3 linked regions of the Homo sapiens genome follow. The protein of the gene in region 1 purifies or fractionates together with the protein of each later gene. This does not show direct contact. Each region holds a gene or a part of one and is shown in the gene's direction. Other genes may lie near its edges. The genes, in order: YME1L1, NDUFB6 and ARMC9.

Region 1 (3,540 bases):
TAGAGACAGGATTTCTCCATGTTGGTCAGGCTGGTCTCGAACTCCCAACCTCAGGTGATCCACCCACCTCGCCTGCCAAAGTGCTGGGATTCAGGCGTGAGCCACCGCACCCAGCCTCTTTGCTTATTTTTTATCTGATTAATTTTTAATTGTCTAGGTGTCCCTGTTACCTGAGAATGACAGATGGAATGAAACTAGAGCCCAGCTGCTTGCACAAATGGATGTTAGTATGGGAGGAAGAGTGGCAGAGGAGCTTATATTTGGAACCGACCATATTACAACAGGTTAGCTTTAAAGAATGGCTTTAGTTCAAATTATATGTGGTCTTAAAGATATGTTTTAAAATGGTATGTTTTTATTTTATTTTAGGTGCTTCCAGTGATTTTGATAATGCCACTAAAATAGCAAAGCGGATGGTTACCAAATTTGGAATGAGTGAAAAGGTAATAGATTTTTTAAATCCTTTTCATGTATCAAATTATGTGTCAAGTGTTGATTTGAGAGCTGGTTCTGATTATAAATTGGTAATATTCACTTTTTCTCTCACTCCAAATGGATTTGAGGCTCTTTATTCTGAACATTGTTATTCTCTGAATAAAGAAAATGGACCTTCTCTTAGCTGCTGAGAATGAGCTGCCCAGATAGTAACTATTACTTCACGAGTTAATTAAGTGATAAAGCAAGGTGAATTCCTTAGCTTTTCCATGTGGCATGAAAGAGTCTACTTTCTAAGTTTGGTTACTTTACTGTTTCCCTCTATTTCATATTTTCATCTTGTCATTGTTCCTTGAAGCACTACTATACTCTGTGAATTATGGATTTCTATATTTGAAGTAGCTGCCAAGGTTTTTCAAGAAAGTACTGAGAACCAGACTTAAAATGATTTTAGGCTGGGCACTGTGGCTCACATCTGTAATCCCAGCACTTTGGGAGGCTGAGGAGACTGTATTGCTTGAGCCCAGGAGTGAGTTCTGGACCAGCCTGGGCAACATGGCACAACCCCATCTCTAAAAAAATACAAAAATTAGCCAGGTATGGTGGTGTGTGCCTGTAATCCCAGCTACTTGGGAGTCTGAGGTGGGAGGATTCTCTGAACCCAGGAGGTCGAGGCTACAGTGAGTCCACTGCACTCTACCCTGGGTGACAGAGCAAGACCCTGTCTCCAAAAAAAAAAAAAAAGATTTTAAATGTTCTGTCTTGCTCATACTTTTACTATTTTGATATTAGTGTTTTTTTGTTTCTTTGTTTTTGAGACGGAGTCTTGCTCTGTTGCCCAGGCTGTAGTGCAGTGGCGTGATGTTGGCTCACTGCAGCTACCGCCTCCCGGGTTCAAGCGATTCTCCTGCCTCAGCCTCCCAAGTAGCTGGGATTACAGTCACCTGCCACCATGCCTGGCTAAATGTTAGTCTTTATACTTTCAGAAGAATGTGGAAATTTCTTTGCCCTCAAATGCAGTTTTTATTTTTATTTTTTTTGGAGACGGAGTCTCGCTCTGTCACCTAGGCTGGAGTGCAGTGGCGCAATGTCAGCTTACTGCAACCACCGCCTCCTGGGTTCAAGCGATTCTCCTGCCTCAGCCTCCTGAGTAGCTGTGATTACAGGCACGTGCCGCTATGCCCAGCTATTTTTTGTGTTTTTAGAAGAAATGGCGTTTCTCCGTGTTTCCAGGCTGGTCTCGAACTCCTAACCTCAGGTGATCCACCCGCCTCGGCCTCCCAAAATCCTAGGATTACAGGTGTGAGCCACTGTGCCCGGCCTCAAATGCAGTTTTCTATTGTACTTCTTTCTTGTCCCCCATATATTTGTTTCCTTATATATAGGATAGTACTTTCTCTTTCAAATTTGTTGGTGTTTGGGGGTTTTCTGTTCAATTACTTTCTTCCTTTTGGTTTTAGCTTGGAGTTATGACCTACAGTGATACAGGGAAACTAAGTCCAGAAACCCAATCTGCCATCGAACAAGAAATAAGAATCCTTCTAAGGGTAATAATATTTTTTGTGCTTATTTATTTTCTTAGGAACAATGTGCTTAAATAGTCAGGTTCTTAAAAAATAACAGCTGAAGGCCCTCTGTTCACTAGAAACATCATTTTATAAAATAAAGATAATAGTCACCATGGTGTCTGGGGAAAAAATTAAAAAATAAAGATAATAGTTGCAGCATTTCAGCAATGATTTAAATGTTATTAAGGCACCTCTCTGTTCATGAACCTGGACACGGGCTAAGAACAGTTCTATATTGCATGGTTGTAAAAATTCAATTCTCAGGGTGAGGGACAAAATAACTACATATTAGGTATTAGGTACAGTGTACACTATGTAGGTATGGATACACTAAAATCCCAGACTTTACCACTATACAATTCATCCATGTAACCAAAACCACTTGTACCCCATAAGCTGTTGAAATAAAATCTATATATAAAATTTTATATGTATATAAAATTCAATTGTACTTTAGCTGCAAAACTGTAAGAGGTAATAGAATGGGAAGAGTATTGTTTATTGAGTCTTTGACATGTATTCAACAAATAAATTTTTTTTTTTTTTTTTATGGAGTCTCATTCTGCTGCCCAGGCTAGAGTGTAGTGGCATGATCTCGGCTCACTGCAACCTAAGAAATAAGTTTAGTAGGTGTTTTATTGTTGGTTTTTTGTGGGTTTTGTCATTTTTTTTTTAAGGGGATGGGTCTTGCTATATTGCCCAGGCTGGACTTGAACTCCTGGGCTCAAGTCAACCTCCCAAGTAGCTGGGGCTACAGGCACACACCACTATGCCTAGCTCTATGATTTCAGTTTTTTGTTTTTGTTTTTTCTTTTTTTTTTTTTTTTGAGACAGAGTTCTGCTCTTGTTGCCCAGGCTGGAGTGCAGTAGTGCTATCTCGGCTCATTGCAACTTCCGCCTTCTGGGTTCAAGTGATTCTCCTGCCTCAGCCTTCTGAGTAGCTGGGATTACAGGCGCGTGCCACCATGCCTGGCTAATTTTTTGTATTTTTAGTAGAGACAGGGTTTCACTATGTTGGCCAGGCTGATCTCAAACTCTTGACCTCAGGCGATCCACCCACCTCGGCCTCCCAAAGTGCTGGGATTACAGGCATGAGCCACTGCGCCCGGCCCAATTTCAGTATTATGTATGTTGAATTTGAGGCATCTTAGTTGGAAATAGATGTGGGAACTTAGTGGAGAGATTGGTTATGTATTGCATTTGAATGTTGAAGCTACCCATTCATGAAGGCAGGTCTTTTTTTTTTTTTTTTTTTTTTTTTTTTTTTTTTTTTTTTTTTTGAGACAGCATCTTGCCCTGTCACCCAGGCTGGAGTGCAGTGCTGTGATCTTGGCTCATTGCAACCTCTGTCTCCCAAGCTCAAGTGATCCTCCCACCTCAGCCTCCTGAGTAGCTGGGACTATAAGCGCATGCTGCCATGCCTAGCTAATTTTGTTATTTTTTGTAGAGAGCATTTCACTATGTTACCCAGGCTGGTGTCGAACTCCTGGGCTCAAACGATCCACCTGCCTTGGCCTCCCAAAGTGCTGGGATTACA
Region 2 (3,653 bases), on another chromosome or scaffold:
GCATTCGTATACCAAGAGAGGGGTGTTAGATCCTCAGTGGGTTGCAGGGGAGGAGGGTGAGCACATCTGTTTGGGGAGCAACAGTGGCAACAGCCTAGTATAGGATATTGGTACCTGAGCAGAGGGAGGAGGACATCTGGAAGAAGGATGGTATGAGGCAGTGAGGCAAGTGGTAACTCAGAGCAAGATGTCAGAACCTGAATGAGGTGAGGCAGGTATTAATGCTGGGATGTGGTTGTGGTGACAGGAGATGGGTTATATATAGGGAGATTGGCCAAATACAGGCATACCTCAGAGATATTTCAGAATTGGTTGTAGAACAATGCAGTTCCAAAAGTATTCTTTGGTTCTAGACCACCAAAACGAGTTACACAAATTTTTTGGCTTCCTAGTGCATATAAAAGTTATGTTTACACTGTGCTGTGGTATAAGTGTGTAATAGCAGTGTAAAAGAACGATGTATATGCTTTAATTTAAAAATACTTTATTGCTGGGCCATGTGTGGTGGCTCCCACCTGTAGCCCTAGCACTTTGAGAGGCCAAGGTAGGAAGATTGCTTGAGGCCAGAAGTTCGACCGGCTTGGGCAACATAGTGAGACTCCATGTTTCCAAAAAAAAAGAAAAAAAAATAGCTGGATGTAGTGGTCCACACCTATAATCCCAGCTACTCAAGAGGCTGAGATGGGAGGATTGCTTGAGCCCAGGATTTCGAGGCTGCAATAAACTGTGATTGTGCCACTGCACTCTGGCCTAGGTGCCAGGTTGATATGCTGCCTTAAAAAGAAAAAACAGGCCGGGCACGGTGGCTCATGCCTGTAATCCCAGCACTTTGGGAGGTTGAGGCGGGTGGATCACGAGGTCAAGAGATCGAGACCATCCTGGCCAACATGGTGAAACCCCACCTCTACTAAAAATAAAAAAAATGAGCTGGGCATGGTGGCGGGCGCCTGTAGTCCCAGCTATTCGGGAGGTTGAGGCAGAAGAATCACTTGAACCTGGGAGGTGGAGGTTGCAGTGAGCTGAGATCGTGCCACTGCACTCCAGCCTGGCGACAGAGTGAGACTCCGTCTCAAAAAAGAAAAAGAAAAAAACAAAAACTTCATTGCTAAAAAATGCTAATGATCATTTGAGCCTTAGTGACTATGTATGATCTTTTTGCTAATGGAAGGTCTTGCTTCCATGTTGATAACTGCTGACTGATCAGGGTGATGGTTGTTGCAGGCTGGAGTGGCTGTGGCAATTTCTTAATATAAGATAGCAGGCGGGGCGCGGTGTCCCACGCCTGTAATCCTACCACTTTGGGAGGCCAAGGCAGGTGGATCACGAGGTCAGGAGTTCAAGACCACCCTGGCCAAGATGGTGAGACCCTGTCTCTACTAAAAATACAAAAATTAGCTGGGAGTAGTAGTGGGTGCCTGTAATCCCAGCTACTCGGGAGGCTGAGGCAGGAGAATCGCTTGAACCCGGGAGGCGGAGGTTGCAGTGAGCTGAGATTGCACCACTGCACTCCATCCTGGGCAACAGAGCAAGACTCCATCTCAAAAAAAAAAAAAAAAAAAATATATATATATATATATGCACACACACACACATATACATACACATATATATACATACGTATATACATATATAAGTATATGTACATATATACATATATATATATGTATATGAGACAACACTGAGGTTTGCCACATCGATTGACTTTTATTTTCACGAAAGATATCTCTGTAGCATGAGATGCTGTTTGATAGCATAGCATTTTACCCACAGTATAACTTTCAAAATTGGAGTCAGGCCTTTCAAACCATGCCGCTGCTTTATCAACTAAGATTATGTAATATTCGAAATTCTTTGTTGTCATTTCAACAATGTTCATAGCATCTTCACCAGGAGCAGATTCCATCTCAAGAAACCACTTTGTTTGCTCATCCAAAAGGAGCACCTTCTCATCTATCAAGCTTTATCATGTGATGGAGGCACTTCAGTCACATGGTCAGGCTCCACTTCTAATTCTAGTTCTTTTGCTATATCCACTACATCGAGTTCCTTCCTGCACCGAATTCCTGAACCCCTCAAAGTCATCCACGAGAGTTGAAATCAACTTCTTCCAAACTCTTGTTCATGTTGATACTTTGACCTCCTCCTGTTAATCACAAATCTTCTTAATGGCATATAGGATAGTAAATTCTTTCCCAGAAGATTTTCCATTTTCTTTGCCTAGATCCATCAGAGGAATCACTATCTTTTTTTTTTCTTTTTGAGACAAGGTCTTGCTGTGTCACTCAGGCTGGAGTGCGGTGGTGCCATCTCGACTCACTGCAACCTCCGCCTCCCAGGTTCAAGCAATTCTCCTGCCTCAGCCTACCAAGTAGCTTTTGATATGAAGTGAGAAACATGCAGCTCTTTCTTTTATTTGAACAGTTAGAGGTCATTGTAGTGTTATTAAATTGGCCTAATTTCAGTATTGTTGTGTCTCAGGGAATAGGACAGTCCAAGGAGAGGGAGAGAGGTGGGGAATGGCCAGTTGGTGGAACAGTCACAACACACAACATTTACTTATTAAATTCACTATCTTATATGGGTGTGATTTGTGTTGCCCCTAAAATTTGTAGTAGTAACATCAAAAATCACTGAGTGCAGATTACCATAACAAATATTAATATAACAATAGTGACAAAGTTTGAGGCCAGGCATGGTGGCTCACACCTGTAATCCCAGCACTTTGGGAGGCTGAGGTGGGCAAATCAGCTGAGGTGAGGAGTTCAAGATCAGCCTGGCCAACATGGTGAAACCCCATCTCTACTAAAATACAAAAATTAGCCGGGCTTGGTGCACGTCTGTAGTCCCAGCTACTGGGGAGGCTGAGGCAGGAGAATCCCTTGAACCTGGGAGAAGGAGGTTGCAGTGAGCCAAGATCGCACCACTGCCTGGGTGACAGAGCGAGACTCCATCTGAAAAAGTTTGAAATATTGGGAGAATTACCAAAATATGGCACAGAGACGTGAAGTGAACACATGCTGTTAGCAAAATGGCACTGAGTTTCTGGGATCGGTTCCCGGCCCATGCCAGTTTTGCAGAGCACACCTGGTGTAGAGCCCTGTGACTGGGGCCTGGACCAGCTTGAGCAGCTGGCCAGCGGGTGCCACTGCCTGCGGGGCCCAGAGGCGTTGAGTACATCTGCAGTGCTCCAGAAGCACAAGACTGTGAAGCTGCGGGCCCTGTGCAGCCCGAGGAAGTTTGGCATGGCGGGCAGGAGCTGCCGGGAGATGCTGCGCAAGGGCTACCTCTGCTTCTAGCTCCCTCGTACGAGGATGGCATGGAGCTGACCGAAGCGTCCTCGACGATGCCGAGCTGGTGCTGCTCACCTCACGCCAGGCCTGGCAGGGCTATGTGAGTGACATCGGGTGCTTCCTCAGTGCTTTTCGCCAGCCGCACGCGTGGCTCATCCAGGCCGCCCGGCAGCTACTGTGTGATGAGCAGGCCCCCACAGAGGCAGAGACTGCTGGCCGACCTCCTGTACAACGTCAGCCAGAACGTCGCAGCCGACACCCGGGCTGAGGACCCGCTGTGGTTTGAAGGCTTGGAGTCCCGATTTTGGAATAAGTCTGGCTATCTGAGATACAGCTGTGAAAGCCGGATCCGGAGTTACCTGA
Region 3 (3,653 bases), on another chromosome or scaffold:
AGAAATTCAATAACTATAGTTAAGTAACAGATACAAGATATGGTGAAAAAAATACTTCCTCCTGGTAATGCAAATGTTTACTGCCTGTTTATCTTTTCCTCTAAGTGTTAATTTAAGCTTTTTTGTTCTGTAAATGTGCTTAACCTTTTTGCAGTTTTCCAGAGTCTCTGCAATAAATGAAGAAGGTAGCTAGTTACCAAGAGAGCGCAGTCTTCACTGTATTCTAATAAGCCACCCTGATTGGGTCAGTGTAGTGTTTAAGAACAGGATGAACGGATAACTGGTTCTGCTGTTCTGTCCTGAGTGGTGGTTTCACCATAACCTGCGCATCCGGAGATGTGCAGAGCTGGCTTCTCTGTGGCATGTCAGTTTTCTACTAATCCAGATGGCATCTCATAATGATACCACACTTAGTCTCAGCAATTCTTAAAGCTAACCTGATGACATTCACCATCACACATTTTGATGGGGTATTGGATTTTGTAAGATTCTACACCTGGACTTTGGGTGGAAAATCATTCCTTATAATTTGCATTAACCAGGTCATTAAACTACCCTTACTCTATAGAAATGTGAATCAAAGTGATGTTAAGCTAGGCTTTTGCTCCTCCTTGTTTTCTTTATTTTTATACAGCTCAGAGTGCCTAGAGCTGGATTATAGAGCGTTTAGGTAAAAATCTATTTGTCAGCTGGGCACGGTGGCTCACGCCTGTAATCCCAGCACTTTGGAAGGTTGAGGCAGGCAGATCAGCTGAGGTTGGGAGTTCGAGACCAGCCTGGCCAACATGAAGAAACCCTAGCTCTACTAAAAATACAAAATTAGCTGGGTGTGGTGGCGCATGCCTGTAATCCCAGCTACTTGGGAGGCTGAGGCAAGAGAATCACTTGAACCCAGGAGGCGGAGGTTGCGGTGAGCCGAGATCGTGCCATTGCACTCCAGCCTGGGCAATAAGAGCAAAACTCCGTCTCAGGAAAAAAAAACAAAAAACCTATTTGTCAAAGAAGTATTTCTATGGTCCTGTTTCCTGGGTTAAGTAAACCAAAAGCTACAAATAAATATTTATTAGATATTTGAAGCAATGCTCTGCTAATTTTAAATATTGAAAAGGAAACTTTCAAAGTAGGAGGCCTCCTTACCACCTTATCTTTATTTAAACCCTTAATAAATATCCCTGAAATGTAAAGAATTTTTGTTATTTCAATTGTATGGGTTTAACAAAAATATTCCTCAGAGTCTATGTCTTCTGTAAGTTTGTCTTTTCTGATATGCATTCACATTACTGTTTCTTCTTTTTTTTTTTTTTGAGACAGAGTCTTGCTCCATCGCCCAGGCTGGAGTGCAGTGGTACGATCTCGGCTCACTGCAACCTCTGCCTCCCGGGTTCAAGCAATTCTCGTGCCTCAGCCTCCCAAGTAGCTGGGATTACAGGCGCCGTCACCACGCCTGGCTAATTTTTGTATTTTTAGTAGAGACGGGGTTTCACCATGTTGGCCAGGCTTGTCTCCAACTCCTGACCTCAGGTGATCCGTCCGCCTTGGCCTCCCAAAGTGCTGGGATTACAGGCATGAGCCACTGCTTCCAGCCTACTGTTTCCTCTTATATGAAAAGTTTCTTGGCAGTTTGTATTTACCGTAGGCTCTTTCTTCCCAGGCGCCCGCTGCAGACAGCGATGATTCAAGACGGCCTCATCTTCTGGCTGGTTGATGTTCTGAAGGACCCTGACTGCCTGTCTGACTACACGCTGGAGTACTCGGTGGCTTTGCTCATGAACCTCTGCCTCCGCAGCACAGGTCTCAGCCCCGACCCTCATTCTAGTGCAAGAAGGGGAAGAGATCTTGACTCTTGAAGCTGGGTTTCTAGTGAGCCTGATATGGTTTGCTTTTAGTCTCATAGAAAACTAAAAACAGAAAAAGGAGTAGAAAGCATTTCCAACTAGGTATCAAGCTGTTGAATCCCTGAAGGCAAAATCCATTCTTGCCCTGGAAAAAATGTCTTGTATATATGTAGTGCCTGCATTAAGAGGAGACTAAGTTCATTTACCTTTTTCTTTATTGCATTATTCAGAGGTAGGAAATTAAGAATATGATCCCCTTTTCTGAAGACAAAGAAGTGTGTTCCCAAGATACTATAGGATTAAGCTGGCCGCAGTAGCAGTGACACTAAACCACACTTCCTGCCCTGAATCACACTCTTTTCCCTGCCCCAGCCCTGGAGGTGGAGGTTCTCCTGTGGGCACAAGTCATTTATATACTTGATCAGTCATTTATATACTTGATCGCTGAAGGTAGTGATTTGAGCTTTTCCAGGTACAGGTACTATCTCATTTAAATTGTTACCTGGGATGAAAGAAGCTTCTTTAGAAGAGGTGCCACCTCCAGGCTGTGGCTTTCCCCAGCCTGAGCATCCAGTGTTAGGAGAGAAAGGCTCCCTGGGTAAACAGCTGGCTCAGGAGGACTTGTTGGAGCATCTTCCCCTCTATATACTTTGTAGACTGAACCATGTAACTGTGTGTTGTTGACTGAGTAAATGACTGTTATTTCAGTCATTTAAAAAAATAGCATGCAAAAAGTCCTAGCCTTTTTTTTTTTTTTTTGAGATGAAGTCACGCTCCATTGCCCAGGCTAGAGGCAGTGGCATGATCTTGGCTCAGTGGTGCAACCTCTGCCTCCCGGGTTCAAGCGATTCTCCTGCCTCAGCCTCCCGAGTAGCTGGGATTACAGGTGCCCACCACCACACCTGGCGAATTTTTGTATTTTTAGTAGGGAGGGGGTTTTACCATGTTGGCAAGGCTGATCTTGAACTCCTAACTTCAAGTGATCCACCCACTTCGCCCTCCCAAAGTGCTGGGATTACAGGCGTAAAGCACCGCACCCAGCCAAAAGTCCTAACTTCTAATATGTTTATCAGATTAGAATTAGCTTTTCTTCATCATCATCACCATATTTGCAGTGATTTTTATGATGATGTTTATAACTACTAAAATGCCTATATGGTCTTCCTGATGGTGGTGTCCGTGCGTGGGAGGGAGAACGTTGCTCTATAATGTATTGTGCTTTCACTGTAATGACTCGCTCTGTGCTCTGACCGGAGTAATAGCCACCACTTGGGATGGTTTACTGAGCACCGAGGTTCTATGCTACACTGAGTCCTTTACATACATTAGTCTACTTAATTTTGCATCACCTTTTGAGGTAGGTATGAATAGTAATCCCTGTAGTAAAGAAGAGGAAACTGAGGCCCAGATTGGTTACATGACTCACCCGAGGTCATACAGCTCACCCGAGGTCATACAGCTCATGAGCAGAGGAGCCAAGATTTGTCTCCAAGTCTACCTGACCTAAAATTGTGCTTCTGGGTTTAGACATGTCATGTTTAGCTTTGATTTGTTTCCCATAGGGAAGAACATGTGTGCCAAGGTGGCAGGCCTCGTGCTCAAAGTCCTTTCGGATCTTCTTGGCCATGAAAACCATGAGGTACTCATTCAGCACTGCTGGCCCTGGGCTCGGGGAGGCTACACTGGGGACCCAATGCCTGTGACCCCACAGGCACACAGCTGGCCCAGGATGGTTGCTGTATTTGAAAACTGTACATGTTCTCTGTCCTTCTGGGATTTTCATAAGCAACTGGAAATCTTTTATAATTTTTAGAATTT

The links.
Region 2: the proteins of YME1L1 (region 1) and NDUFB6 purify together in Homo sapiens (affinity purification with western blotting, with the first as the bait; one study listed by BioGRID). This does not show direct contact.
Region 3: the proteins of YME1L1 (region 1) and ARMC9 purify together in Homo sapiens (co-immunoprecipitation; one large-scale study listed by IntAct). This does not show direct contact.

The regions. Positions count from the first base shown.
Region 1 is NC_000010.11:27,112,963-27,116,502, reverse strand, and holds part of YME1L1 (ATP-dependent zinc metalloprotease YME1L1), read left to right. Parts: intron 1-157; coding exon 158-284; intron 285-369; coding exon 370-443; intron 444-1,895; coding exon 1,896-1,982; intron 1,983-3,540. UniProt on the Homo sapiens protein: ATP-dependent metalloprotease that catalyzes the degradation of folded and unfolded proteins with a suitable degron sequence in the mitochondrial intermembrane region.
Region 2 is NC_000009.12:32,566,656-32,570,308, reverse strand, and holds part of NDUFB6 (NADH dehydrogenase [ubiquinone] 1 beta subcomplex subunit 6), read left to right. Parts: intron 1-3,448; exon of another isoform or gene 3,449-3,653.
Region 3 is NC_000002.12:231,274,985-231,278,637, forward strand, and holds part of ARMC9 (lisH domain-containing protein ARMC9), read left to right. Parts: intron 1-1,651; coding exon 1,652-1,791; intron 1,792-3,397; coding exon 3,398-3,474; intron 3,475-3,653. UniProt on the Homo sapiens protein: Involved in ciliogenesis. It is required for appropriate acetylation and polyglutamylation of ciliary microtubules, and regulation of cilium length. Acts as a positive regulator of hedgehog (Hh)signaling.